Linked DNA regions of Homo sapiens. The protein of the gene in region 1 purifies or fractionates together with the protein of each later gene. This does not show direct contact. Each region holds a gene or a part of one and is shown on either strand. Other genes may lie near its edges.

What was found.
Region 2: the proteins of KRT4 (region 1) and WWC1 purify together in Homo sapiens (co-immunoprecipitation; one large-scale study listed by IntAct). This does not show direct contact.

What each region holds. Positions count from the first base shown.
Region 1 is NC_000012.12:52,806,017-52,808,706, reverse strand, and holds the end of KRT4 (keratin, type II cytoskeletal 4), read left to right. Parts: coding exon 1-21; intron 22-287; coding exon 288-413; intron 414-842; coding exon 843-1,063; intron 1,064-1,313; coding exon 1,314-1,348; intron 1,349-1,456; coding exon 1,457-1,638; 3' UTR 1,639-2,158; downstream 2,159-2,690.
Region 2 is NC_000005.10:168,298,145-168,301,800, forward strand, and holds part of WWC1 (protein KIBRA), read left to right. Parts: intron 1-3,656. UniProt on the Homo sapiens protein: Regulator of the Hippo signaling pathway, also known as the Salvador-Warts-Hippo (SWH) pathway.

The DNA of each region.
Region 1 (2,690 bases):
GAAGCCCTGTACCAGACCAAGGTGGGTGGTATGGATCTCTCAGGAGATGGGGCTGGCTCTGGGGCTCTGCTTTTGATGTCTGTGAACAGGTGATCATTAGCTCAAGCCCAATAGAAGTCAGATATGAACAGACTCTCCCAGGCATCGTTGGTCCTGGTCTGATTTGAAACTACTTGACATTTGGTGCTATTCTTGCCACCTGTGGCAATTCTCACTGAGTTCACTTGAGAATGGACCCTACCCAAATGCCCCTAACACCTGGTTCTCTGTGTCTTCTTGAGTCTTAGGTCCAGCAGCTCCAGATCTCGGTTGACCAACATGGTGACAACCTGAAGAACACCAAGAGTGAAATTGCAGAGCTCAACAGGATGATCCAGAGGCTGCGGGCAGAGATCGAGAACATCAAGAAGCAGGTGGGTGTCACTCCCTTCCAGATGGAGCACAAGGCCAGGGGCCTCAGGCAGACATCTCCAGAGTGGACAAGCAGATAAAGCATCAGGCCAGAAGACCCTGAGCTTGTTGCTGGGAATTCATAGCTCTTTGTGCAAGGCATACCCAGATTTTTTCAGCAATATCCTAGTTGGCACACCATGACGCTCCTGTGCATAGGTTTCTTGGCTCTTCTTCATGGGTTTTTGCTCATTTTTATTTAATCAGTCTGGTGGAGGCATTGGTGGGCTATGGCTGGAGTGAATGAGATGCATAAGTCTCAGGGAAAGTGGGCAGAACAGATAGAATCTTGACATCCTAACCCAAGGAAAGCTGGACCAGGGGAGGGGACAGGTGTAGAGGCCTTGAAGGCAGGGCACTGCTGACCACCTATCTAATGCCTTTGTCAATAGTGCCAGACTCTTCAGGTATCCGTGGCTGATGCAGAGCAGCGAGGTGAGAATGCCCTTAAAGATGCCCACAGCAAGCGCGTAGAGCTGGAGGCTGCCCTGCAGCAGGCCAAGGAGGAGCTGGCACGAATGCTGCGTGAGTACCAGGAGCTCATGAGTGTGAAGCTGGCCTTGGACATCGAGATCGCCACCTACCGCAAACTGCTGGAGGGCGAGGAGTACAGGTGAGGGGTTAGGCAGGGTGTGAACATGAGGGCCAGAGAGGTCCAGGGCCATGAGCTTATTTATGCCTCTGCCGGGCTGCAAGCATCAGTGTTGTGCCGGTGCATTACGAACCAGGACAGCTCAGCTAATAGGTTCACACTGGGCCCTCAAACTCAGAGGCTGCTCAAGGATAAGAGAGGTGAGTGAGGCATGCTTATTGAACAAAATTCTGTGCTCCCTGAGGCTCACCGCCTTTTCTTTCCCCTACAGAATGTCTGGAGAATGCCAGAGTGCCGTGAGCATCTGTAAGTACCTTCCACGCCTGCTGTAGTTGTTCATTCACCCGGGTCTTGCCAGACCCCTGGGGTGCTGGCAGCATTGGAATAACTGTGTCTTTTGTGTCTTTTCTGCAGCTGTGGTCAGCGGTAGCACCAGCACTGGAGGCATCAGCGGAGGATTAGGAAGTGGCTCCGGGTTTGGCCTGAGTAGTGGCTTTGGCTCCGGCTCTGGAAGTGGCTTTGGGTTTGGTGGCAGTGTCTCTGGCAGTTCCAGCAGCAAGATCATCTCTACCACCACCCTGAACAAGAGACGATAGAGGAGACGAGGTCCCTGCAGCTCACTGTGTCCAGCTGGGCCCAGCACTGGTGTCTCTGTGCTTCCTTCACTTCACCTCCATCCTCTGTCTCTGGGGCTCATCTTACTAGTATCCCCTCCACTATCCCATGGGCTCTCTCTGCCCCAGGATGATCTTCTGTGCTGGGACAGGGACTCTGCCTCTTGGAGTTTGGTAGCTACTTCTTGATTTGGGCCTGGTGACCCACCTGGAATGGGAAGGATGTCAGCTGACCTCTCACCTCCCATGGACAGAGAAGAAAATGACCAGGAGTGTCATCTCCAGAATTATTGGGGTCACATATGTCCCTTCCCAGTCCAATGCCATCTCCCACTAGATCCTGTATTATCCATCTACATCAGAACCAAACTACTTCTCCAACACCCGGCAGCACTTGGCCCTGCAAGCTTAGGATGAGAACCACTTAGTGTCCCATTCTACTCCTCTCATTCCCTCTTATCCATCTGCAGGTGAATCTTCAATAAAATGCTTTTGTCATTCATTCTGAGCAATGGTCTTTTTTCCCTGGGGAGAGGTCTCTAGAATCCTGTATAACTAGATAATTTTGGTGAAGGTGTATGCTTGCGGGTGTGAAGGATCTGTTTATACAGATCTGGGTCATCGACTAGTTTCTCAGGTCTCTACTTCTAAGTTACTCAAATTATTGGGGGAGAAGTACAGTGTACAGAGGCTGAAGGTTGCCTACAGGGCAGTTGTACAGATTGAAGGGGCATCCAACAATTATACACACATTGTCCATTGTAGGGCACCCTGGGGTAGCACCATTTCAATGCTGATCCTGGAATAAACCTGGAGGGAAGGGGTTTAAGTCTGCAGGTGGGGGGCATTTGATAGGTGTGAGAGAAGCAGGCCAGGGGTCTCTGCTGAATATAGAGCAAGAAGTTATGGAGCTTATGAGAGTGCTTATACTCTGTGTCTAGCAAGGCCTCCCTATTTTCATGAAATTCCATGCATGGGGCTAAATCTCACTGGCCCAACAAGGCTTTCAGGAACCTGTTCCAAGAATCAACAAG
Region 2 (3,656 bases), on another chromosome or scaffold:
TCTCGTGCCTCAGCCTCCCGAGTAGCTGGGATTACAGGTGCATGCCACCTCACCCAGCTAATTTTTGTATTTTTAGTAGAGACAGGGATTCACCATGTTGGCCAGGCTGGTCTCGAACTCCTGACCTCAAGTTATCCGCCTGCCTCAGCCTCCCAAAGTGTTAGGATTACAGGTGTGAGCCACTGTGCCCCACCCAACAAGGTTTCTTAAGTGAGAGTTATAACCAGTCTGCCAGGGAAGTTACCCAGAACCTCTTTATTCTCCATGCTGCTGCTCTTAATGATCCACTAATACCTGTAGATGTATAATAATAATACTTACATACAAGTGATTAGAGGGCTTTTTATCTTTTTCTGAGGCTTGAGTTTAAGATCTACGTATTCCATGGGAGTCTACCATGCCTGGGAACATCCTATGTCAATTATTAAGAAAGAAATGAGGTTTAAAAACACTAGGATAGATAATAGGGAGAAGCAAGAGATTTGGTAACCCAGAGAAGAATAAAATAATAGTCAATACCAGCATCTATTGAGTGTTTACTCTCTGCTGCCCACTGAGCTAAGCATTCTATTTTGTGACCTCATTTTATCTTTTCAACAGCCATATGGGGTAAGTACTTCAGATGAGGGAACTGAAATTTAGAAAGGTTAAGTAACCGGCCGGGCGCAGTGGCTCACTCCTGTAATTTCAGCACTTTGGGAGGTCGAGGTGGGTGGATCACCTGAGGTCAGGAGTTCAAGACCAGCCTGGCCAACATGGTGAAACCACGTCTCTACTAAAAATGCAAAATATTAGCCAGGTGTGGTGGCACGCACCTGTAATCCCAGCTACTCAGGAGGCTGAGACAGGAGAATCGCTTGAACCCAGGAGGCGGAGGTTGCAGTGAGCTGAGATCGCGCCTCTGCACTCTAGCCTGGGCAACAAGGGCGAAACGCCATCTCAAAAAAAAAGGTTTAGTAACTTGCTCAAGATCACCAACAGGTGTTGCATCCAGGACTGGAGCCCACCTAGCTGGATTCTTGCATCTACACTCATACTAGCTGTAGCCTGGTCTGGCTCTGTCCTGGCTTATTAATCCATCTCAGGGCCCCAGAGTGCCCTGTTGACAGCTGGGCTTGAGAGTTACCATTTATTCTTAAAATGGGTGAACCTGATGTGGATCTCAGGGAGAGACTTTGCTAAGGAGCCTTAACCAGAGAAGCCAGTGAGATCCTCATGGCAGCTTAGGAGACTGTTTGGCATAAACTCCACCTTCTGGGAGCAGCTGGCTAACCAGAGCTTTGGGGATGGGAGAAGAGAGAGAGATGGAGGCAGAGGGACTCTTTGAAGGATGCAGTGTGTACAAGGAGTTCACAGTCCTTTCCAAGTCGCTTGGGTAAATGCTCCCAACAGCCAGGGAATGAGTAGCCAAGGCCGTTCCTCTCTGTCGCCATCCCTCCCCCTCCCGGGGAGAGGGCTTATCCAAACTGACCCAATTTTCCAATTCCCTGGGGTCCCAGATTGCTGTGAGAAGAACACTGCCCTTTTGAAGGGAAGAGAATCAGGTTGCCTTAGTTACCTGGAAGGTTGGCACGCCAAGTTCAGGTGCACGTAAGGAGAAACAGGGCTAGAATAAGTGTGAGTCGAAGGTGGCCACCGTCTTGCTGCACGGTTCCCTCAGTGGCAGAAGCCTTGATCAGGCTTCAGTGGCACTTGCAGGGAATGCCGACCTAATGTCAGGTGGCTGTCCATGACGTGTATCAGGAGCTCTCTCCAGCCACATGTGGTGCTAGGTGATGAGGCTCTGCAGCCTCCAGTTCAGCAAGGGGCCCTGGATAAGAGGAATCCACTTCACTTGGAGAAGTGGCCTGGTGACATCCCTATCACCAGCTCCTCGCTATTTGCTAAGGGAAGCACCTCCACTTGGACAGGGCTGAGGGCTAGATCTGGGCAAAAAACTCCCGTCTTGCCTCTCCCAGCATGGAGATGGCCAGCTGGCTGCACACCTTTAGGTAGAACAGCAAAGGTTCAGTTGCTGCTGCCTCGAATCCGTTTCAGAGTGAGATAAAGAAAGAGAAAACTAAGAAACTGGATACAGTGACATTTTGTTATTAGACCTTCCCCAGCAGGCCATTTAGCCTTTAGTTCCTGAGCAGAAAAATAATAATGGGGTGGCGGGAGGAGGGGGCAGGCGTTCACTGTTGTGTGCGGAGAATATTCTCTAAAGATGCAGGATGGGGAAGAGGGGGTGGAGCAGAGAGTGGGGAGGAGGGAAAGAAAAAGGACAAGTGTGGTGGGTCACATGCCCATTCTCCCCACCCCCCACCCCTTGCCAGTTGCCTGCTCAATGCTTCTACCCATGACATCTCACTGTTGGGAAGAAATGAGATCTTTCAGTTTCAAATGTCTGCCAAAGAAAAGGGACGGAGGCTTAAGTTCTCACTCAATGGTCAGCCAGAAAAAAAAAAAAAAATGAAGCTGCATCAAGATTAGGGACACCTTTGTTGGCTTTTTTTTTCTTCTCTTGCTCCATTCATCACTCTCTGGCAGCGAGGACACCAGGCCAACTGCAGCTGCTGACTTTCCCCAGTCGGCTGCCTGCTGTTGCCCAGGCCTGTTTTGGTAGCAACCCCCACACTGGCTTCCTCCCCGCCCAGTGGTGGTTACTTGTTGGATTCGTCCCTGGGGTAGCCCCTGGGATCCACTGACGGGTAACAGACTTGGAAGGATAAAATGTCAAGATGCAGGCATCAGGTGGCTGCTAGGATGAGATGACCCTGGGACAGCCTTCCAGTCCTACATCTGTCGTGGCTTTTCTTGGAGAGTCGGGCTGTGAGCATTTCACTGTATTCCAGGAATTTCTTCTAAGTGCATTGTTTGTCTTTGTATCACTAACAGTGAGAACAATAACTGGCACCTGGTGATAATGGTGATAAATAATCATGATTGTCTTTAAAGATCCTTATCCATTGTCTGTCACGTGCCAAACACTATTGCTCATCATATTTTTATGGCATTTTGCAAATGAGGAAACTGAGGCCGAGAGACAAGTCAAGTGACAAGCTCATTTTTCCACTATGGAAAAAAATGTGTATGTGTTTGTTGTTCCACCCAAACATGGGATTGCATACCACACGATTCACGATTCCCTGTAGTAGATAAGCTCTCCATAAAGATCATTAGAGGACACTGAGTCAAGTCTGGCTTTGTCACTTTAAAATAGTAAGTGGGACTGGGTGCAGTGGCTGACACCTGTAATTCCAGCACTTTGGGAGGCCAAGGTGGGTGGATCACCTGAGGTCAGAAGTTCAAGACCACCCTGGTCAACATGGTGAAACACCATCTCTACTAAATATACAAAAAAATTAGCCAGGCGTGGTAGCAGGCGCCTGTAATCCCAGCTACTCGGGAGGCTGAGGCAGGAGAGTCGCTTGAACCTGGGAGACGGAGGTTGCAGTGAGTCGAGATTGTGCTATTGCACTCCAGCCTGGGCAACAAGAGCAAAACTTCGTCTCAAAAAAAAAAAAAAAAAGTAAGTGACCTTGAACCAGTTCCTTCTCAGCTATAAAACAAGGATAAGAATAGAACCTACCTACCCCTGAGAGTCATGGTGAGGATATGACATCCAACATAGAAAGTCTTAGCGCCTATCATGCCTTCATATGGGAGCCCTTTCC